Regions from separate parts of the Homo sapiens genome. Here all the other regions are linked to region 4. Evidence: fine-mapped expression QTL. A gene starts in region 4. Each other region holds a variant in brackets. All regions are shown on one strand. Distances are from middle to middle.

The links. PIP is the estimated chance that this variant, and not a neighbour inherited with it, causes the effect.
Region 1: its variant is the best candidate, but not a certain one, in a credible set for the expression of TEK in whole blood (TOPMed, PIP 0.82).
Region 2: its variant is the best candidate, but not a certain one, in a credible set for the expression of TEK in whole blood (TOPMed, PIP 0.71).
Region 3: its variant is the best candidate, but not a certain one, in a credible set for the expression of TEK in whole blood (INTERVAL, PIP 0.68).

The regions. Positions count from the first base shown.
Region 1 is chr9:27,070,853-27,077,004 of GRCh38, reverse strand. No RefSeq gene overlaps it. Among named protein-coding and RNA genes, the nearest start is that of TEK, 35 kb to the left of the region's middle. The variant T/G (reference allele first, on the strand shown) is at 2,983.
Region 2 is chr9:27,077,851-27,084,002 of GRCh38, reverse strand. No RefSeq gene overlaps it. Among named protein-coding and RNA genes, the nearest start is that of TEK, 28 kb to the left of the region's middle. RefSeq lists a silencer at 2,945-3,145. The variant C/G (reference allele first, on the strand shown) is at 3,312.
Region 3 is chr9:27,224,014-27,230,165 of GRCh38, reverse strand. TEK (TEK receptor tyrosine kinase) reads right to left here. Exons shown (of 23, transcript NM_000459.5): 22 at 1,861-1,960; 23 at 1-1,008. The coding sequence ends at 934. Among named protein-coding and RNA genes, the nearest start is that of EQTN, 70 kb to the left of the region's middle. The variant G/C (reference allele first, on the strand shown) is at 3,365.
Region 4 is chr9:27,106,433-27,112,584 of GRCh38, reverse strand. TEK (TEK receptor tyrosine kinase) reads right to left here and starts at 3,360. Exons shown (of 23, transcript NM_000459.5): 1 at 2,943-3,360. The coding sequence starts at 2,994. It overlaps LOC124902134 (a long non-coding RNA gene), which reads right to left. Exons shown (of 2, transcript XR_007061440.1): 2 at 6,044-6,152.

The sequences.
Region 1 (6,152 bases), 36 kb after region 4:
GCTGGAGCAAGCAAGGGGGTAGGGAAGGGAGGTGCCAGATACTTTTAAATGACCAGGTCTTGTGAGATCTCACAGGGAGAGCTCACTTATCACCAAGGGGATGGCCCAAGACATTTGCAAGGAATCTAACTCCATCACCAAACTATCTCCCACCAAGCTCCGCCTCCAACATTTGGGATTACAATTCAACAAGAGATTTGGGCAGGGACGCAAAGCCAAACCATGTCAAAAACAAACAAACAAACAAAAGTTGCTCTTCGGCTTCCTTTGATGGCTCATCCCTTTGCTATAATAAGAATAGAAAGCTCTAAATTCTAAATCCACACTGTCCCACATGCAGCCAATCTCTGTATGTGAACATCAAGCACTTAAGTGTGCGTAGTGTGAACTGAAATGTGCTGCAGGTGTAAAATACACATCAGATCTCAAAGACTTAGAATGAAAGAAGAATGTAGGGGCAGTTGGCAAGATGGCTGGCTAGAAGCAGCTAGTATACATGGCTCTCACGGAGAGGAACAGAAAGGGCTAGTAAATACAACACCTTCAACTGAAACATCCAGGTACTCGTATTGGCATTAATCAGGGGAACAACTCAACCCACAGAGAATGAAGAAAAGCAAGACAGGATAATGGCCACCTGGGAGCAACATGAAGACAGGGTATCCTCTGTCCAGGGAAGTGGTAAGTGAATGAGCAACCCTGGGAGACCATGCTTCTCCCACAGATCTTTGCAACCCTTGGGTCAGTCAGATCTCCTTGTGAACCCACTCCACCAGGGCCTTCTGTCTTCAGTCTGACAGACAGAGCTACATGGAACCTTGGCAGAGCAGCCACTAAGGCACGTGTGGAGACCCTGGAGGCTTAGATACTTGAGCTTTCTGGCAAAAGTAGCTGCAGCTCTGGCAAAGAGGGAGGTTAGACTATTGTACATACCCCTAGGAAAGAGGCTGAATCCAGGGGGCTGAGCAGCGGCAGGCCGCAGGCCTCATTTTCATGGCACCTCACAAGATAAGACCTGTTGGCTTGGAATTGCAGCCAGCTGCCACTAGCAGCATTGCACCCCCCTAAGAAGGAGTTTCCAGGGGGAGGGGTGGGCCACCATCTTTGCTGTTCAGGCACTTTAGCTGTTCTAGCCTTCAGGCTTTGGAGTGTCTGAGCCAACCCGGGGCAGAAGGGGATCCCCCAGCACAGCACAGCTGCTCTACCAAAATACGGACAGACTGCTGCTTTAACTGGGTGGCCAATCCCGTTCCTCCCCGCTGGGCAGGACCTCCCAGCAGGGGCCTCTAGCTACCCCCGACCCAAGCTTTCTAGCTGACAGAGATCTGAATCCCCCTGGCACAGCACTCCCAGAGGGTGGGGCAAGTGTATTAGTCCATTTTCACACTGCTGATAAAGACATACCCAAGACTGAGCAATTTACAAAAGAAAGAGGTTAAATTGGACTTACAGTTCCATGTGGCTGGGGAAGCCTCACAGTCATGGTGGAAGGCAAGGAAGAGCAAGTCACATCTTACGTGGATAGCAGAAGGCAAAAAATGAGAGAGCTTGTGCAGGAGAAAGCCTCTTTTTAAAACCATCAGATCTTGTGAGACTTATTCACTATGACAAGAAAAGCACAGGAAAGATTTGCTCCTGTGATTCAATTACCTCCCACCAGGTCCTTCCCACAACACATGGGAATTCAAGATGAGATGTGGGTGGGGACACAACCAAACCACATCAGCAAGCCACCATCTTTGCTGTTTGGGCAACTTAGCCATTCCAGCCTTTGGGCTTTGAAGTGTCTGAGGTGACTGGGGGCTGCAATGAACCCCCAGGACAGCATGACTGCTCTACCAAAATGTGGCCAGACTGCTTTTTTAAGCAGGTCCTGATCCTGTTCCTCCTCCCTGGACAAGACCTCCCAATCAGGGTCTCCAGCCACTTCCTACAGGTGCCTTTGGGCTGACAGGAGGTCTGTATCTATCTGGGACAAAGCTCCCAGAGAGGACAGGCTGCCATCTTTGCTGTTTTGCAGGCTTCGCTGGTGAGACCCACAGGTTCTGGAAAATCTGAGGTGACTAGGGACTGGAGTAGGCCCCAAGCATACTGCAGAAGCCCTACAGAAAGTGGCCGGACTGTTATGTAGGTGCCCATTCCCATACGTCCTCATCAGGCAGGTCCACCAGGCCTGGGCCTCCAGCCATCCCCTGCCACAGCTATCAAACCAGTACCAACTCAGCAACTCCATGGACAGAGCCTCCAGGGCAACTGAAAGCCTCTCTGCCACTGCCTCTGCAGTGGAACTGCCCTTGCCACCGTTGGACTAATGAAGGAACAAAGACCCTAAGTGCCTTATCCACACCTCCAACAAGCTGCAGTTGACCCAAGGAGCAGAGACTAGTCTGCTCCCATGGGTCCCACACATGCCCCACAGCTCATCACCAGACAGGGAACACCTGGCTTGGGCCCTGTACAAACCCTCCATGTTGGGCTGATTGCACTGAATGATTGCTGACCTATATCCCTCTGGGGTGGAGCCCCCATGAGTCAAGCAAATGACCCCTGGCACAACCACTACTAAAATCTCTTCCTCTTCTGCCTCTAAGCTGGGGAAGGAACATAAACACTGAGATCACCCCAGACTGGCAGTGGGCAGCCCAGGAGTGCCAAGTTGTGAACTACAGCCAGCATTCAAGGGGGAGTGGAACTCACACTTTCAGAGCATTGAAAGGGAACACAGCTGCAACTGTGAGGAAACACAGGGAATCCACACAATTGGGCAAGCGTCAACCAACTGACCAATAAGCCTAAGTGTCACCTACTGGATCACACCCCAAAGTTTCAATACCAAAAATACCTTATTAACATATTTCCCTCTGAAACCAAAGATAAGAAGTCAGCTTCAAATAAAAAGCATAGCTACACAAAGCCTCAGCCCTGTGAAAACATCCAGAAAAGAAGTCTATTGGTTATACTCTATCTACACTGCAGTTAAAG[T/G]AACACCCACGCACAGAGGTGAGAAAGAACCAATACAAGAACTCCAGTGACTCAAATGGCCAGGGTGTCACATATTCTACTAATGACCAAACCAGTTCTCCAAGAGTTCTTAACCAGGCCGAACTGGCTGAAATGACAGAAATAGAATTCAGAATATGGACAGGAACAAAGATCACTGAGATTCAGGAGGATGGCAAAACCCAATCCAAGGAAAATAAGCATCACAATAAAGTGATACAGGAGCTGAAGGACAAAATAGTTGGTACAAAAAAGAACATAATGGGTCTGACAGAGCTTAATAACACAAGAATTTTGCAATGCAATCACAACTACAAACAGCAGAATACACCAAGCTAAGGAAAGAATCTCCAAACTTGAAGATCGGTTCTCTGAAATAAGACAGTCGGACAAAAACAAGGAAAAAAAAGAAAGAACAAAACCCCTGAGAGGTATGGGATTATGTAAATAGGCCAAATCTATGAATCACTGGCATCCCTGAAAGGCAGGGGGAGAAAGCAAACAACTTGGAAAATATATTTCAGGATATCATCCATGAAAACTTCCTCAACGTTGCTACAGAGGCCAACAGTCAAATTCAGGAAATACAGAGAACTCCTGCAAGATTCTACACAAGAAAATCATCCCCCAGGAAAATCTGACATAATTGTCAGATTTTCCATGGTCGAAATGAAAGAAAAAATATTAAAGGCAACTGGAGAGAAAGGGCCGGTCACCTACAAACTGATTCCCATCAGGCTAACAGCAGACCTCTCAGCTGAAACCCTACAAGCCAGAAGAGACAGGGAGACTATTTTCAACATTCTTAAAGAAAAAAAATTTCAACCAAGAATTTCATATCCAGCTGTACTAGTCCATTTTCATGCTGCTAATAAAGACATACCCGAGACTGAGCAATTTACAAAAAAAGAGGTTTAGGCCAGGCGTGGTGGCTCACGCCTGTAATCCCAGCACTTTGGGAGGCCAAGGTGGGCGGATCACGAGGTCAGGAGATCAAGACCATCCTGGCTAACATGGTGAAACCCCGTTTCTACTAAAAATACAAAAAATTAGCCAGGCGCAGTGGCAGGCGCCTGTAGTCCCAGCTACTCGGGAGACTGAGGCAGGAGAATGGCGCGAACCCAGGAGGCGGAGCTTGCAGTGAGCCGAGATAGAGCCACTCCAGTCCAGCCTGGGCGAAACAGCGAGACTCCGTCTCAAAAAAAAAAAAAAAAAAAAAAAAAAAAGAGGTGTAATGGACTCACAGTTCCACATGTCTGGGGAGGCCTCACAATCATGGTGGAAGGTGAAAGGCATCTCACATGGTGGCAGTCAAGAGAGAGGAAGAAGTGAAAGCAAAAACCCCTTAGAAAACCATCAGATCTGGTGAGACTTACTTACTACCATGAGAACAGTATGCGGGAAACTACCCCCACGATTCAATTTTACCTCCCACTGGGTCCCTCCCATAACTCATGGGAATTATGGGAGTATAATTCAAGACAAGATTTCGGTGGGGACACAGAGCCAAACCATATCATTCTGCCCCGGCCCCTCCCAAATCTCATGTCCTTATATTTCAAAACTAATCATGCCTTCGCAACAGTCCCCCAGAGTCTTAACTCATTTCAGCATTAACTGAAAAGTCCACAGTCCAAAGTTTAAAGTTTAAAATTTACAGATTTGGGCTGGACATGGTGGCTCACTCCTGTAATCCCAGCACTTTGGGAAGGCAAGGTGGGCAGATCACTTGAGGTCAGGAGCTCAAGTCTGGCCAACATGGCAAAACTCCATCTCTACTAAAAATACAAAAAATTACCTGGGCGTGGTGGCACTCACCTGTAATCCCAGCTACATGAGAGGCTGAGGCAGGAGAATCACTTGAACCTGGGAGGTGGAGGTTGCAGTGAGCCAAGATCGTGCCATTGCACTCCAGCCTGGGTGACAGAGTGAGACTCCATCTCGAAAAATAAAAATTACATATTTGGCTCACATTTGTAGCTCATATTGCACGCACTGTTCTAAATCATAAGGGCAATATTTTTTCCCGTACAATCAGATAGCTTCACTACCAAGTAGATTTGTTTAAATGAGTTGCAGTATACTTACACATTAAAATATCTTTAATTCAAAATATTTTAAAAGCATTATCTATTTAATCAGCATCTTATTCTATAAGAGTAGATCATTATGTCCCCCATGTTCCAAAGGCAGCACACAGAGATTTAAATGACTGACAACTATAGAAGTTGTACAGGTGCTCTAAGTCTATAGCTAGATTAAATTACAATGCCTTCAATTTTACTTTTTTTTTCTTTTTTGAGATGCAGTCTCGCTCTGTTGCCAGGCTGGAGTGCGGTGGCATGATCTCGGCTCAATGCAACCTCCGCCTCCCGGGTTCAAGCGATTGTCCTGCCTCAGGCTCCAGAGTAGCTGAGACTACAGGTGTGCACCACGACGCCCAGCTAATTTTTTTAATTTTTAGTAGAGATGGCGTTTCACCATGTTGGCCAGGATGGTTTTGATCTCTTGACCTCGTGATCCACCTGCCTTGGCCTCCCAAAGTGTTGGGATTACAGGCGCGAGCCACCGCACCCAGCCTCATTTTACTTTTCTTTGCATACTTCCTTTAGAGAAGCAATGGTCATTTTATCTAAAAAACAAAACAAAACAAAACGTTTGTCTAGAAAAAAGCAAATCATTGATCCTGGGAAAGAGGCTTAACATATGGGAGCTTAAATGATGAATCTCAACAGATTTTCCCTCGATGACAGTAAAAGACGAGAAAAACCTGAATCAATTGCTGCAGTTGGCAAAAGCGTTATAACAGAAAAGCTATCGAAATTCTCACCAATTCCGGTACTCCACAAATAACTCTTGCTGAATTATGTTTACAGAAGGGCAAGTTGGTTGGTTTTCACCAATAAATGTGGTCATCTCCCTCTTTTTCTCTCTCTCTCCATATATATATATATATGATATATATGATATATATATCATATATAGCCATCCATATATTCATATATATGTGTCTATATTTTATATATATCCATCCAACCATCCATCGCCAGAGAACCGAAACCTGGACTGTTTTTTAATAAGCTTCAAAAAGCTCCCTTTTCCCACAGCTAACGTTAAACTCAATGGTGAAAAGCTTTTCCTCTAAGAGATCA
Region 2 (6,152 bases), 29 kb after region 4:
AATAACTTCCATTTAATAATACTAACTGCTACCATTTTTGAACACTTTGGTGTTGGGTACTGTGAAGAGGCTTTAATACATTAGGTCATTTAATCCCAATGGTTTGCTATGAGAGAGACATAATTTTTCTTATTTTGTATTTGTTGAAATTGAGAATTAGACAAGGTAGGTGATCTAAGTTTATCCGGCTAACAAGTAGAAGACCCAGGGTTAAAGCCCAGTTGGGCTGACTCCACAATCCATGCTATTAGCCACTATTCTACATGCACTCCCTTTGTTCTGAAACCCAGATTTGCTCTGTTTTGTAACCTTTTCTTCTCCTGCAAAGGTTGTTGTGTGATATCTCAATCCTCTTAGCTGAGGTAAGCCTGACTGTGGGACTCATAGGATGTGCAGTATATTTAGAAAGAAGGAAACCCCATTAAGAAAAACTCTATGATATGTGCTACTTCTCTGCTTTGATCACTCTCAGAATCAGAATCTTGACTATCCAATACAGGGTATAAGTTTCTTAAGTTAGAATTTTATCACAGTAACAAAAATAATCATTCATTTATCCAACAAATATTTGTTGAATACCCGCTACATGCAAAGCATTATTCTAGGGACTGTTGGGAATGATAGGTTCATCCTCCATTATATTCCACGATATACTACAAACTATACACGATTTATAGTAAGGTTATTGTTTAATTTTTTTTTTTTTTTTTGAGATGGAGGAGTCTCACTCTGTCACCCAGACTGGAGTGCAGTGGCACGATCTAGGCTCACTGCAAGCTCTGCCTCCCGGGTTCACGCCATTCTCCTGCTTCAGCCTCCCGAGTAGCTGGGACTACAGGCGCTCGCCACCTCGCCTGGCTAATTTTTTGGATTTTTAGTAGAGACGGCGTTTCACCGTATTAGCCAGGATGGTCTCGATCTCCTGACCTTGTGGTCCACCCACCTCAGCCTCCCAAAGTGCCGGGATTACAGGCGTGAGCCACCGCGCCCGGCTGGTTACTGTTTAATTTTAACAAAAACTTAGTACTATTATCTAATTTGTTTTTAAATGTCCCTTTGATTAAAAATTTCAAATAACAAATAATATCTTATTTTCGGTTGGTGCAAAAGTAATTGTTGTTTTTGCCATTAAAAGTAATTGCAAAAATCCCTTTAAATTTCTATAAAGTGAAAAGATAAGGCTTAGACTAAGAGAAGATATTTGCAACATAAAACTTCTAAAAGACAAACAATACAATAGAAAATGGGCAATAGATATGAAGAAGATAATTCATAAAAGAATGTCCAATTGTCATATGATCTCATTAGTCATCACAGAAATCCCATTAAAGCAACAATTAGAAAAAAATTTAAAGTTTGAAAATACTGAATCCAGGATTCATAACTGGTGAGAGTGTAAGTCAGCACAACCTCTTTGGGAAGATCTAATTGAAAATGTGCATTCCTTATCTTGCAATTCTATATCTAGGTAATGAAAGCTGTATACATGTGCACAAAAAGTCACCAGTGAGCTCACTGGGGCATTGTAGTAGAGAAAAACGTAAAGCAACTAAACATCAATCTGTAAGACAATTGAAATAATAATGATGTATTCACACAGTGGAATACAATACACAGCAATTAAAATGGAAAAACAGGATCTATAAGAATCAACAGGGATAGCCTTCAATTAAGTAATGTTCAATGGAATAAAGAAAGTAGAGAATGATACCATTTATGTAATTTTTAAGGATATAAAACCATTCCATATTTTGCTTGTAAACACATATATAGAATAAAAGTATAAAAACAGCCTGGAAGGATAAACACCAAATTTAAGGTGGTGACTAATTCTAGACTATGGGAATGAGGAAGAGAACAAAAAGGACATCACCGTATTTGTAATGTCCATTTCTGTTACCATATTTGTAATACCACTCATATGTAAACACAAATTATTAACAATTTGTAAACTCTAGGTAGTGAAAACACTGATGTTTGTTGTAAAATTATTTATATTTACTGAACTTTCAATATTCTTTAATAAAATCAAAAGTATTACTGTGACTGCTCTTGAAGAATGGATTGCAGAGAGGCGAGAGATCAATTCAGGTCCAAGTATAACATGATGGTGGCTTGGATTAGCATTATAATAATGAAATGGAAAAAAATTGACTGATCAAGTGATTTTCTGTAGGTAAAATTTTAGAAGATACTGATGAACGGAATGTAAGGGGTAAGGAGAGAAAGGAATGAAGGATATCTCTGAATTCTAAATCATTTTTTTGTACACAGATTTATTTTCTGTTTGCAGTCTGATCTTGTAAATAGTTCCTCAGTTGGGTAAAAACATGGATAGTATGAAATTATCTGTATAGTCCCATTAAATGTCATTCAAAAAAAGTCACTTGGAACAATTACTGGTTAATAACTTCAGGCATAAATGTAAGAATATTATACTTCCACATCTTGTTGAAAAGTGCTTTATCCACAAATAATGCAAAGGGAACATACTAACAGGGCTTGGGTATTACTGGTCGTATTTCTAGTTAACCATGCTTTTTTATTCCCTGGAGTTCAACCTTCTTTTCTGTTTGGCCAGAACATGACATGTAGGCTAGAGGTGGATAATAGGGACAGAGGCTGGAGAATGGCAGTAATATTCATTTATGCCTTCTTTAGAAAGTGATTGTGAGAAACACATTCACCCATCCAAACTCAAAGAATGGACTTGGAGACACAAAGAACAGTGGAAGCAAGACTTTGCATGGTGGTCTTGCAAGATTGGGTGTCTGGTAGGCAGGCACACCCAATCTCCTAATTTATCTCCTAATGATAAATCAGCATGTAATTTATCTCCTAGCATGCAAGTCCCTGCCCCAGTTCCTCACTGGTCGAGTACTATCGGGTTACAATCTTTCCAGACAAAGCCTAAGTTTTATTACCCCCCTTATAAGGTTATACCCTCCCATCGCCTTCCCAGCTTAAGTTTGATTTCCCAATAATGAAACTTTCTTCCCTTTTATGGGCTGACCTCTCCTTTACAGTCTGTTCGCTTATCGTGACTTTCCAGGTGCACAAGCTGTGTGGTTTTTTACATCCTTAGGCTGGCTGCCAGTAGTTAGATTTATCATGCCTTGAAAATGGACCATTTAAAATGTTTTTTTCACAGTGATTATCCCATAAAATTTGAGAAAATTGATGTGAAATGAAATGGCAGGCCTTGAGGAATCCCTGGAGGTTTCACTTGAATACCTGAGGAAAAAACATTTTACAGTTAGTAAAGGGTTCATGAACCTGGAAGTTGGGTTTATGAAGGGACACTTGATTTA[C/G]TTTTCCAGAATCAGCTAGTATTTGCGCTTTCCACAGAAAGTGTATCTTTACATAAAATTGCGTAATATATTTATTGCCCATGTCTCCCATTAGAATGTAAATTCCAACTGGGTGGGAATTTTTATTGGTGTTGGTCACGTCTTTTTTTTTTTTTTTTTTTTTTTGAGACGGAGTTTTGCTAAGTCGCCCAGGCTAGAGTGCAATGGCACGATCTTGGCTCACTGAAATCTCCACCTCCCAGATTCAAGTGATTCTCCTGCCTCCGCCTTCCAAGTAGCTGGAATTACAGGCATCCGCCATCATGCTTTACACATTTTTGTATTTTTAGTAGAAACGGGGTTTCACCATGTTGGCCAGGCTGGTCTTGAACTCCTGACCTCAGTTGATCCACCACCTCGGCCTCCCAAAGTGCTGGGATTTCAGGCGTGAGCCACAGCACCCGGCCGTGGTCACTTCTTTATTCAATAAGTTTTAGTTAAATGAATTTGATAAATGGAAAGTTTTACTTGCTGATAGGTTGTCTTTATAGTACAAACATATTTTGTTTTACCCATATGATGAACTTTACATCGTTAGTGCTTCCTGTTATTGGCAATGGGATTATGATAAGTATAAGGATGAAAACTATAGCTGGTGAAAAAAAAATAACTGCAGAGGGTTGAGGCATATGTTGTGTTCATGCTCTGCAATGCTTGCTGTATTAGTTTTGTATTGCTGCTGTGATAAAATACCACACATTCCATGACTTAAAGCAGCACAAATTTATTATTTTACAGTTCTGGAAGTCAGAAGGCTGAAATGTGTCTTAGGGTAAAATCCATCTAGAGGCTCTAGGGGAAAATCTGTTTCCTGGCCTTTTTCAGCTTTTAGAGACTGCTGCAATTCTTGACTCACACCCCCTTTCTCCATCTTCAAAGAGCATCACTCCAACCTCTGCTTCTGTTGGTATAGCTTCTCTCTGACTCTGGCCCCCTTGTCTCCCTCTTATAAGGATATTTGTAATTATATTTTGCCAATCTGGATAATCCAGAATAATCTCTCCATCTCAAGACCCTTAAGTTGATCACATTTGTAGTCCGTCTTGCCATGGAAGGTAACATATTTGCAGGTTCTAGGGATTTGGATGTGAACATTTTTTGAAGGGGGAACTGTTCACATCCAAATCCCTAGAACCTGCAAAGATGTTGTCTTCCATGGCTATTCTGGTTTACCACCACCATTTAGAAATTTCACTTGCATTGAAATTTTCACTCTTTGCTCATCCACTACTGTTGCTTCAACGGCAAAAATACTGAAAAATTCTGAAAATTTACAGGCACTCAGCAGAGTTTCACCCTGAATCAAAAAAATTTATTCCTATCTCAGCTGAGAAGTTCCTCATTATCTTGATAATAAATGGGAGGAAGGGAGAACATTATGTCTTTTATCAACTATTTTAAAAGATTGAAATATAAGTTATAAACAATAATTGTCAAGTTGTAAGGCAGGTTTGCACCTCACCTGGCATTTCTTACCTTCTAAACATGCTGAAATTTTCTTTTCAGTTACATTCAAATGTGTGTTGTGCTTCAAAGCAGCAAACTTGGTAGGGCAGGCTTTTAATCACAAGGATGTTGCTTTTATTCTCAACATTTTTATAGTTTCTTTTTTTGAATTGTCTTTAGAGACAGTTCACTAGACACGCAGGAAAACATGGCTCATTATTTTAAGGTCACAAGGTACTTTGCTTGCTCTGTCTTCTTCCCTTCCCCATTGTTTTAGTCTAGTTAGCCTCATCTCCACTCCTTCCTCTGCTGATATTAGTGCCAGAGATCTGTGAGGTTGAGAGGAAGGCCTGGGGAGCCCAGAGTGTAGCTGGGAAGGGAGCAGGAAGAGCCTCACAAAGGGCCTACAAAGTAACAAACTCTAATGTACATTTGTGTGATCCAGTTCATTTTACATACTATTAATAAGTTGCTTGAGCATCAGTCATGTCATTAAAATAAATATGTATTGAGAACTGTATGTAATTTAATCTAAACTTTTATTAGTTCCCAATGTAAATATTATCTTAAATAAAAAGGTATACTCAAACAGACTTTTTGATGTATTGCTTTTTAACAGGAGAGGTGGGATCAGTAAAGGAGAGACTGGAAAAATGTTGGAAATTTTCTGTACTGACTCTTCTCAAAGTATGTTTCAGTTTAGAGATTTTCTTAGAACAGCTCTATGATTTGAAGCTTTTCAACTTCAGTAATGAAAGTTTACTAGTTACGTAGGTACACGGATAAATTTAAAACATTTTAATAATGACATCATATGAAATATTTATACCATATAATACAGGCTACAAATATTTTTGAATACTGGAGTTATTAAATGTAAACACAATTTACAAACCTTCTGATATTTTCAGTTTTTGAATTTACAAAATATTTGGACAGATTCTTTCAGAGGCCCCATTCAGAAGAAAGTTTCTAAAATATTTGATATATATATATATATATATATATATATATACACAGACATATAATATTTTCCTCATAAACCAATTAATATTACTAGTCGATAAAATATATTTGTTATATATATACAGACATATAATATTTTCCTCATAAACCAATTGAGATTACTATTTAATAAAATATGTCCAGCCAGGCGCAGTGGCTCACACCTGTAATCCCAGCACTTTTGGAGGCCGAGGCGGGCGGATCATGAGGTCAGGAGATTGAGACCATCCTGGCTAACACAGTGAAACCCGTCTCTACTAAAAATACAAAAAATTAGCCAGGCGTGGTGGCGGGCGCCTGTAGTCTCAGCCACTTGGGAGGCTGAGGCAGGAGAATGGCGTGAACCCGAGA
Region 3 (6,152 bases), 120 kb before region 4:
AGTAGGCAAGACATTTATTCACTCATGATATATCAGTGCAAAGTGTGCCTACAGTATACAAGGTAAACTCACAACTCATCAAAACTAAAACTTTTTACAATGTGCAATACATGTAGGGATATTAATTCAATATATAAATGTCACATGTCTCCCAAATGTCACCCAGGCTTTCTGTTATTTCTTAAAATATACAAGTCAATATTACCAGAGAAAAGAAAAGAAAATCCCATTATTTTATCCTAAACTTATGTATACTTCTCTAAAGATTCTTAGGCTTGTAAGCAATGAGATTTAAGTCTATTTTTAGATGTTAGCATCCTGGACTGACTTGCAGGCTGTGGAAACACAAGACAGAGTGGTCACATGACTAAATGAAACGGGACTGGCTGCTACAGGTGAGGGATAAAATTGAGAGAGAAGAATCTGATTTATATCACTTAGATTTTTCAGTGTCTTAAATATTAACCTATGACTTGTTAGAATTCATATAGTTCTCTCACTTAACCTGTACTATCAGGGTCATTGTTAGGTTTATTAACAATATTTTACTTTGACACAGGAAAACATTTAATAGCATTCAACATAAAGGTAAATATCAAAATATCTAGGACAACAATGAGTTATGCATTATACTAATTGTACTCACGCCTTCCTATGAAGTCCACATTTTTAAAAAAATATATTATTGCATATGAAACCACAAACAGGCATTCTGATTTCAGCCCATTCTTAAAACAGTATATACAGTCCTATTAGAGTCAGAGCATACTACATAGATCCATGCATGGGATCTACAGTGGTGAAGGTCCCAGGTGTACAGCACATATGTACACTTATATATCACATCCTTTGGCAGAGGCATGTTTTCTCAGCAGGTGTCAAGGGTCTCCCATGCCAGTGAAAGGGAAACAGAGGGTATACAGATGTTCTGTCCTAGGCCGCTTCTTCAGCAGAACAGTCAATTCCTGCATAAGTAAACTTCTCATAAAGCGTGGTATTCACGTAGGTCTGGAAGAATGAAAATGGTTCAGAGACATAGGCTGCTTTGATTCCACCTCTGCCAGCGGCAGTTACAGCAATACCTTGGTTTTCTTAGTTTGTTGCAACTCATATACTAAGCACTTGGGGGATACTTTTCTGTCCTCAGTCCCTCTGTTGTATTTGATGACTTTCTTCCTAAAATGCATCCCCTTGCGTTCTGCAAGTAAGATTTCATACTGTATCCTCAGTTTCTGAGCTTGCCTTTCTCACAGTGTCTTATTGGTACCTCCTAATGTGTTCAGCTTCCCTAGGGTTCCTTCTTCTGGGTTCCTTCCTCTGTCTGAATCTCATTTTCACATCTGTGTGATCTCACCTGCATCTCTAGTTGAATTACCACTTGGGTTTTGATGACTATTTCTTTAAACTGTGTTTACTTTTATTTTGACTCCCAGATCGGTACAGCCAACTTACTTCTAGAAATTTTTATGGAGTTCCTGACCCTCATTATAGTAACCTGCAGGTCAGGCTCTGTTGTCTACTTGCTGTGTGTCCTTGGTCAAGTCACCCACTTCTGAGTCTGTTTCTTCATCTATAAAATTAAAGGGTCAGGCTATATGACGAAAATTCCTTCCAACTCTAATAGGCTAATTCTGTATGTTATTCTAGTGTGTACGTGACTGTATCTTGTATAGAAATCTTATTTCCCCCCAAAATTGTAACTTCTTCAAAGTCGCGGGGGTGGAGGGACATCCTTTGTTTCTATAATACTTAGGGCCATGCCAAGAAGAACTTCTTCAATTATTTCAATGTTTTTTATGAACCACCCTGGGCACATCAGGTATTCCAATTAAAGATCTCCTGCCTGACTTTAATACTTACCTTTCGCTCCTCTAACATTCTGTTTAAGGACACCAATATCTGGGCAAATGATGGCCTCTCATAAGGCTTCTCCCGCCAGCATTGTCTCATTAGATCATACCTTCGAAAGCAAAGAATTAAAGGGTTAATTCTATAACTGTGCTTCAGTCCTAGGCACGGCAGGAAAAGAGAGGAGAGAATGAAGCCACCCAATGCATGGTTATGAAGCTTAACCAAAGTACAGCCCCTAGGAAGTTTCTATGAGGACTCCCACCTCCCTAAGCCAGTCTCATTTCAACTCCTCATAGATTTAGTTCCTACCCTCGGTACTGTTTCTGCAGGACCTTGGTCTCAGCTATTGCAATCATCTAGAAAGAACTGGGTATGTGTCTAGAGCAGCATTTGCCTTGGAATGCTGCATATTTCAAAATGTTAGTGTCTCTTAAAGGGCCCATGCTCAAACTTGTAAAATGCCACCCACATAAAGTCCCTTTAAGAGGCAGGACTTTTAGAAGCACTGTCATTAAAAACAAAAAAATGCCTGTTTAACCAGGTGCTATGGACTGAATGTTCATGCCACCCAAAAATCATGTGTTGAAACCATGTGATGGTGTTTGAAGGTAGGTCCTTTGGGAGGTGATCAGGTCATGAGGGTAGAACCCTCATGAATGGGATTCGTGCTCTTACACAAAAGGCCTCAAAGAGCTCTTTTGCCCCTAGTGCCACGTGAGGACACAGCAGAAAGATGGCCATCTATGAGCTAGGAAATGGCTCATGGCCACCAAATCTGCTAGCGCTTTGATCTTGGATTTCCCAGCCTTCAGAACTGTGAGAAATACATCTCTGTTGTTTATAAGCCACCATGTTTATGGTATGTTGTTACAGCAGCCGGAAATGACTAAGACAACAGGTTTAACACAAAGTTTCCAAAGTAATTGACCGCAGAACTCCTTTCCCCTTGCATCATGTATTTATATCTTGCACAACACGTGAAAACATAGTTTGGGAAACACTGACCTAAGACAGTGCTTACTCAGTTGTGCTCAGAACTACTCTGTTATTAAAATGCAGAATTCTGGAACCTGCCCTAAACTTACAGAATCAATGACTGACAGTGGGGACCAAGAGCCCACATGCTGAACAAATGACTCTGGGGAACCTTATGTGCATGGAAGGCTATCAACCATTGGCTTAGGGTGTCACAGATCCCAGAACAGCTTACACTTTAACATAAGTTTCTTAAAGACTAAAAAATCTTCTCACCCCTTATGAAGTGAATCTCAAAAGGTGGAATTTTAGGGACTGTCTAGTGATGGTCAACTATGTCCAGGTTTTTCCAGGATGGTATGTATGCTTCTTGCTCCAGTGAGATTAACACCCTCCTTCACTCTTAGAAGTAGCTCCATTTAGACAATAAATTATCTGCTCAACCTAGAGCCTTGCAGTCTTCAAACATGCCAGTTAGCTTCTACCACGGATAGTTCTGGGAATGCTGGTATCACTACAGTTCATTATTCTTACCCTT[G/C]GAATAAATCTTACTTTTGAAAGTAATCTTAGCAGAAGCAAGGTTCTAGGCAAGAAAATGTATCTTTATTTTTTTATTATTATACTTTCAGTTCTGGGATACATGTGGAGAACATGCAGGTTTGTTACATATGTATACAAGTGCCATGGTGGTTTGCTGCACCCATCAACCTGTCATCTACATTAGGTATTTCTCCTAATGCTATCCCTCCCCTAGCCCCCACCCCCCGATAGGCGTGTGATATTCCCCTCCCTGTGTCCATGTGTTCTCATCCTTAAACTCCAACTTATGAGTGAGAACATGCAATGTTTGGTCTTCTGTTCTTGTGCTAGTTTCCTGAGAATGTTGGTTTCCAGCTTCATCCATGTCCGTCCAAAGGACAAGAACTCATCCTTTCTTATGGCTGCATAGTATTCCATGGTGTATATGTGCCACGTTTTCTTTATCCAGTTTATCATTGATGGGCATTTGGGTTGGTTCCAAGTCTTTGCTATTGTGAACAGTGCTGCAATAAACATACGTGTGCATGTGTCTTTATAGTAGAATGATTTATAATCCTGTGGGTATATTCCCAGTAATGGGATGGCTGGGTCAAATGGTATTTCTAATTCTAGATCCCTGAGGAATCGCCACACTGACTTCCACAATGGTTGAGCTAATTTACACTCCCACCAACAGTGTAAAAGCATTCCTATTTCTCCACATCCTCTCCAGCATCTGTCATTTCCTGACTTTTTAATGATTGCTATTCTAACTGGTGTGAAATGGCATCTCATTGTGGTTTTGATATGCATTTCTCTAATGACCAGTGATGATGAGCTTTTTTCATGTTTGTTGTCTGCATAAATATCTTCTTTTGAGAAGTGTCTGTCCATATCCTTTGCCCACTTTTTGATGGGGTTGTTTTTTTCTTGTAAATTTGTTGAAGTGCTTTGTAGATTCTGGATATTAGCCCTTTGTCAGAAGGATAGATTGCAAAAATTTTCTCCCATTCTGTAGGTTGCCTGTTCACTCTGATGGTGGTTTCTTTTGCTGTGCAGAAGGTCTTTAGTTTAATTAGATCCCATTTGTCAATTTTGGCTTTTGTTGCCATCGCTTTTGGTGTTTTAGTCATGAAGTCTTTGCCCATGCCTATGTCCTGAATGGTATTGCCCAGGTTTTCTTCTAGGGTTTTTATGGTTTTAGATTTTACGTTTGTCTTTAATCCATCTCGAGTTAATTTTTTATAAGGTGTAAGGAAGGGGTCCAATTTCAGTTTTCTGCATATGGCTAGCCAGTTTTCCCAACGCCATTTATTAAATAGGGAATCCTTTCCCCATTGCTTGTTTTTGTCAGGTTTGTCAAAGATGAGATGGTTGTAGATGTGTGGTGTTATTCCTGAGGCCTCTGTCTTGTTCCTTTGGTCTATATATCTGTTTTAGTACCAGTACCATCCTGTTTTGGTTATTGTAGCCTTGTAGTATAGTTTGAAGTCAGGTAGCTTGATGCCTCCAGTTTTGTTCTTTTTGCTTAGGATTGTCTTGGCTATGCAGGCTCTTTTTTGGTTCCATATGAAATTTAAAGCAGTTTTATCTAATTCTGTGAAGAAAGTCAATGGTAGCTTGATGGGGATAACACTGGGCAGTGTGGCCATTTTCACAATATTGATTCTTCCTGTCCATGAGCATGGAATGTTTTTCCATTTGTTTGTGTCCTCTCTTATTTCCTTGAGCAGTGGTTTGTAGTTCTCCTTGAAGAGGTCCTTCACATCCCTTGTAAGTTGGATTCCTAGATATTTTATTCTCTTTGTAGCAGTTGTGAATGAGAGTTCACTCATGGTTTGGCTCTCTGTTTGTCTGCTATTGGTGTATAGGAATGCTTGTGATTTTTGCACACTGATTTTGTATCCTGAGACTTTGCTGAAGTTGCTTATCAGCTTAAAGAGATTTTGGGCTGAGACAATGGGGTTTTCTAGAAATACAATCATGTCATCTGCAGACAGAGACAGTTTGACTTCCTCTCTTCCTATTTGAATGCCCTTTCTTTCTTTCTCTTGCCTGACTGCCCTGGCCAGAACTTTCAATCCTACGTTGAACAGGAGGGGCGAGAGAGGGCATCCTTGTCTTATGCCGGTTTTCAAAGGGAATGCTTCCAGCTTTTGTCCATTCAGTGTGATACTGGCTGTGGGTTTGTCATAAACAGCTCTTAATATTTTGAGATACGTTCCATCAATACCTAGTTTACTGAGCGTGTTTAGCCTGAGGGGGTGTTGAATTTCCTTGAAGGCTTTTCTCCATCTATTGAGATACATGTGGTTTTTTTCATTGGTTCTGTTTAGATGATGGATTATGTTTATTGATTTGCATATGTTGAACCAGCCTTGCATCCCAAGGATGAAGCAGACTTGATCATGGTGGATAAGCTTTTTGATGTGCTGCTGGATTCTGTTTCCCAGTATTTTATTGAGAATTTTCGCATCAATGTTCATCAGGGATATTGGCCTGAAGTTTTCTTTTTTGTTGTGTCTCTGCCAGGTTTGGGTAACAGGATGATGCTGACCTCATAAAATGAGTTAGGAAAGATCCCTCTTTTTCTATTGTTTGGAATAGTTGCAGAAGGAATGGTACCAGCTCCTCTTTGTACCTGTGGTAGAATTCAGCTGTGGATCCGTCTGGTCCTGGACTTTTTTTGGTAGGTAAGCTATTAATTCTGCCTCAATTTCAGAACTTGTTACTGGTCTTCGACTGGGATTCGACTTCTTCCTGGTTTAAACATAGGAGGATGTATGTGTCCATGAATTTATCCATTT
Region 4 (6,152 bases):
AGTCTTTTGAGATGAACTTAGAAGACTCCTTCCCTCCTGGAGAGACGCCTTGGAAGAACTAGACTCTTCCAGGAAGCTCTCCCAGGGCAGGGCTGAAAGGGAAATGCTGAGACCTAACAAACAATAAAGACAATGCTTGGAAGGGAGCATCTGTGAAAAAAGCAAGCTCCTCCCTCTGAGAATAATTCCAAAGGGTGTCTCCGATCCCAGCTTTCAGACCTCCACCCTTGATTACTCAGACTTGACACTAGCCTTCTGAGACCAGCCCTAACAAGGGGGTTTCATCTGGGAGCACTTCCCTGACCTTACAACTGTTTCCTCTGCCACCCCAGACAAGATGTCTGCTATCTCTGAATCCAGTTGTTATTTAAAATGTCAAGTGACAAGGGCGGGCGTGGTGGCTCATGCCTGTAATCCCAGCACTTTGGGAGGCCGAGGCGGGCGGATCACTTGGGGTCAGGAGTTCGAGACCAGCCTGGCCAACATGGTGAAACCCCGTCTCTACTAAAAATACAACAAATTAGCCAGGCATGGTGGCGCACGCCTGTAGTCCCAGCTACTCGAGAGGCTGAGGCACAGAATCACGTGAACCTGGGAGGCGGAGGTTGCAGTGATCTGAGATCACTCTACTACATTCTAGTCTGGGTGACAGAGCGAGACTCCATCTCAAAAAAAAAAAAAAAAAAGTCAAGTGACACAGTAAAGAGGTATGAAAGCATGAGACTAGAGACTTCCTATTAGATCATTGTTGATCACGTAGAAGATACTATGATAAATCACAGTGATTTTTTTGTTAGTTTTCTACATATACAACTTTTTAAAGAGAACAGCCTGGTTTTATGAGGAAGAGTAGGGAAAAGCTAATATAATAGAACCTGTTTGAAAGCTGAAGTTAGCAATGATTCTCAATTCAGAAAAGGAAAGCAACAGAATCTAGGAGTATTTGTAAGGAGCTTCTGAGAGCTACACATCCCCTCCAGCCCTCTTATGGGTAAACAACTCTGTCATCCAGAGCCACCTTCACTAAAAAAAAGTGGCTTTTTTTTTTTTTCAGTCTGTGGGTTCAGAAAAAAGAAACAAGAAACAACCCACTGGACTAGAGAGATAAACCTTTAAGCCATAAGCCCCTTGCTCCACTGCTTTAGTCTACCAGGAGTTTGACTAGAGGAACGGGCTCCTATGGCTGTGGACATTATCTAGCTGGATTCTTGTTGCAATTATCAAGCCTTGAGCAGTCATGCTCATGGAGGCTTAGACTAGGAATGCAAGCTACGATCAAGACAACAGACCTACCTCAGAAACTAACCTTGCTAGTGTCACCCTTCCTAACAAGAACATGAACCTACTTCCTCTCCTTGGTCCTCTGCCTTTTAAAGGCAGTGCTGTTTTTTCCAGGGATCTGAGGTCTAGACATGGAACAAGTATTTTGGCTACATACCTTTTTGTTTGATTTTATGACAATTCTTCTAAGCCTGTATTGCAAAGTGCTATAACACAGTTGCTTTAGGAGTAAAAAAAGTGAATGAAAACAGTTGTGTGTGTATTAACCTACAAAGTACCTCAGAGAAACTATAGACACCTGGGCTTCACATCACTATAATCCCTGGTATAGAGTAAGTTCCAGATTTCATGTCACTGGTAAATAATGGCACTCAGAAAAAAAAAAATCAAAAATGGAATCATGATAATTATTTGAAGTACATATTATTGGAGAAGTCAACATTATTTAAACAATTTCCACATAAATACTGAAGCCACCTAAAATCTTTTAATTTTTAGCAACTTGTGTTACACATTCTTAAAGAATATTATTAAATTCTCAAAATATTGGTTGTTGAGAGCTATAAAACAAACTGTATTCAACTCAGTTATTTCATTGGATTTGTTTTTTGAATATTTAATAAAATAGTTCAAACACCTAGAAAATATAGCAGATACTTATGTATACTCGAATCAAATTATATTAATATGCCCTATATCCATGAAGTTTAGTGAATTTTCCCAAATTCATCTCCAATATCAATTCGATTTTCGTTATTAAAATTAGAATGTTTTCAAACCGAAGGGGAGAGACTGATGGCAATGATAAATGTATTTGTGATATGTAGTTCAGGTTTGGATACTGCCTTCTACCTATGTCACATAGGCTGAGTGAGCTACAGAGGCACACCACTATCTGGAGTATCTAAGCAATAAACACGCTGAACCCAACACACTGGCCAACCACTCCTTCACTCTACAACAGGCTTCATATACTCTCCTGTGTTAAAGATTTTGGTAACTGCCTAAATTTTTGTTTCATTGGGCCAGTAAACCCTTTATGAATTACTACATGGCAAACATTTTTTAAAATAAAACAAAAATTCTAATAGCCCCAATCTCCCTGACCCTAACTACAAGAAAAAAAAAAAAGCCTACAATTTCATTGCTTTGCTTAAAATAGGATGTAGATATAAAATCTTTTTACAGAAAAGCATCTTTGTTCCCTTTTAACAGTGACAATCTATACACTGCCTTAATTGGGCCCCTGTATTTCTCAGCATGAATTTCATTTTTTACTGAAGATTTTCTTTAAAGCAGGTAAAACCGGTTTGTTCTTTAAAAAAAAAATCAATAAGAAAAACACTCCAGAATGAGGAGCAGGAAAATAATGCATGATAGTAAGGGGATCTCTTCAAATAAGATGATTTAATCGGTCCTCAAAGAGTTTCTAACACAGGGGCCAATCACCCAGAAGACAAACTAGCAAAATCAGTTCATGCCACAGAGCCTTTGCATTTCAATCCTTCCACACATATTGACTGGAGACTCACAGAGAAATGGTGCCTTTGCTACAGCCACCCCTTGTTCATCAGCACTGATGAGATTTGGGGAGAGCACCCAGAAATCACTAACTCTGTTTTTTAAAATACTAAATTAAAAAAAATAAAGCCAAACCTTACCAGAAAGGAGCAAGCTGACTCCACAGAGAACTAAGCTGGCTAAAGAGTCCATGCTTCCCCAAATCTCTCCATCCAGTTTCCACAAATGTGCATGAGGTCCCAAGGATCCTTTCAAAAACCCAGCGGTTTGTGACTTTCCATTAGCATCGTCCTACTACGTCTTGTTTACAAGTTAGAGGCAAGAAGGAACAGCACAGAAGCAGGCTGTAACAGTCTCATTTCTGTCTGAGCACAGGGAGTTTTAAGTTCCTTTTTCCTGTTTCCTTTGTAGATTAGGATGGGAAAGGCTGTATCTTAAAGGCATTTGGTATCAGCAGGGCTGGGGGCACTCAAGCCCTATCCATCTCGCAATTCATCAAAACACTTATCTGTTGCTGTTGCTTCTGCTGCTGCTTTTGCTGCTGCTGTAGGGGCAGAGGAATTTTTGTTGGAAGTGTGGGTCCCGGTCAGCATTTTCAGAAACAATAGGGGTATCCTCTCATAGGCGGGAAACTGAGAATAACAAGCCCTCCACCTATGTATGGTATGCGATGATGACCAATCCTTCTCAGACTTCTAACAGCTCTCCCGGGGCTACTGGGATCTCTGACAGAAGGAGCTTTTGGGTGTGGGAAGCCGTTTTGGCTTTTGTTTTCTCATTTTAACCCACATGGTTTGAATTGGGAGAAGAAGGTTTCCGTGATGAGAAAATACAACCTGAAAAGCAATTAATTTCAGTGAGCACCGGTGAGGTCAATGCTCAATGTAGCCCCAAGAGACCAGAGTCCAAAATTGTTAGCCTGTTTTCTTTCACACAGATGGCCTGTTGGTTGGCCATTAGCCCAAAGATACCCATGTTGCCGGCTATAGCTTTAATTTTCATTAACAATTCATCTAAAGGTGATCAAATTTCTTGAAGAAGTTGGCATAGAAGGATTTTGGTAATGAGAAAGATTTGGTAGTCATTGAGCAATGGTGTTTCAGAAGCAAATTATATATAACATTTAAAAACTAATCTGTGTAAAAACACAAACATACAGGATTAGATTGGGATAAAAATGGTGCTCATGAGAGCAAAGAGAGTTCATGGACCAAAATGAAAATAGCCATGGAATGTACAATATCTAGAATGAGGTCAGAGACCCTACACTTATCCAGATAATTACTCCACAATATGAATTATGACATTAGATTAGAGAGTATACACTTTGCTCATCATCGACCTTCATGCCTGAGGAAATCATTATACTCCTCCTTTTCCTACCCACCAGAGGAAAAGGCAGATGCAGCTAGTCTTGACTAATTTCTGTCCCAGGTTTTATCACATCGATGATGATCTTAAGAACCAATTAATGTTTCCAGTTTGCAGGTGTGAAAAAGCCCAGGTTCTGTCTGCAAACAGAACTGGGTTCAAATACTGGCTCAGCCACATGTGTAGCTGAGAAAAGTTACTTAGTCTTTTTGAGCCTCAGTTTCAACAGCTGTGAAATGGCAAAAATATCTCCTTCCCAGGTGTTTTGAGAGGAATAAATGAGGTTTAAAAATATAAAACCATTTGGTACTATGCCTAGTTCTTTGAAGGTTCTCATTAAATGTTAATAAGTTTATTTTCTTTCATCTTTCCATTCAGTCTCAATTTAAATTCCAAGAGCTTCTACTAAAAAGCTATTTTCTATTCCTATGAGATGACTTTAAATTTGTCATCACGAAAAAAAAAAACAAAAACAGTGGGCCTGGCACAGTGGCTCACGCCTATAATCCCAGCACTTTGGGAGTGGATCACCTGAGGTCAGGAGTTTGAGACCAGCCTGGCCAACATGGCAAAACCCCATCTCTACTAAAAATACAAAATTTAGCTGTGCTTGCTGGCGTGCACCTGTAACCCCAGCTACTCTGGAGGCTGAGGCAGGAGAATTGTTTGAACCTGGGAGGCAGAGGTTGCAGTGAGCCGAGATCGTGCCACTGCACTCCAGCCTGGGTGACAGAGCAAGACTCTGTCTAAAAAAAAAAAAAAAAAAAAGAAAAAAAAGAAAGAAAAATGAAGTTCCACACAGGCTAAGTTACTTGCTCTGCTGTGAGTAGCAGAGGTAATAATATCTGAATCCTGAGCTCTGGACCTCCAATTTTTCCCTTGTTTCATAGTTGAAAAGTAGATCAAGAGTAATGTAGGACATCACAAACACCAGCAGGGTACACCTAGACCTTACAGAAGTATTTGAAATGAAACTTTGACAGATAAGAATAGTTTGGTGACACTGAGAAGTGCGGTCAGTTCTTAGTGTGCTTCTGAAATAACTAATGTCAGGATCGGTGGGTGCTGTATTAATTCACTTCAGGAAAATGAAAGGGGCCTCCTCATGAGTCAAGCTCATTCCATTTAATTTGATTTTTCCAGACATACCTACAGTAAAAGCATAAAGAAAACCAAACCAAACTAAACAAACAAACAAGGCTCTTGGCTGATTCTTCATTTTCTATTTCCTGCTTTTTGCACTCAATACATGAAAAACACTATAGACAACATTAAAAGTCTTTGAGACTAATTAACAAAGGTATCAATAGATAACAAAACGGTTTTTCTGAAAGAGGTGGAAAATAACTTACATAATACTACTATACACTGGTATCACATGTCAAGAGGTCAACATCACAAACACAAAGCAAAAGCCTTGTATGCATACCCTTTGGCCCAGAAAATCCAGTTTTTTTTTTTTTTGAAATAGAGTCTCACTCTGTCGCCCAGGCTGGAGTGCAGTGGCACTATCTCGGCTCACTGCAACGTCCGCCTCCTGGGTTCAAGCGATTCTCCTGCCTCAGCCTCCTGAGTAGCTGGAATTACAGGCGTGCACCACCACACCCGGCTAATTTTTATACTTTTTAGTAGAGATGGGGTTTCACCATATTGGCCAGGATGGTCTTGAACTCCTAACCTCATGATCCACCCCCCCCCCCCCTTGGCCTCCCAAAGTGCTGGGATTACAGGTGTAAGCCACTGCGCCCCACCAGAAAATCCATTTTTATGATATACACCAAGCCAAAATCAAATATGTGCCCCCAAATTTGTGTATAAGGACATTATAGAAGCATAGTTGATAATAATCAAAGCCTAGAAATAATCAAAATGGTCAACAAAAATGGATTATTTATTAAAAATCATGGTATACAATGAAGTTCCAGACAAGTGTTCAAATACTATGGTGAAATCAGATTGACATAAAAAGATGTGAAAAT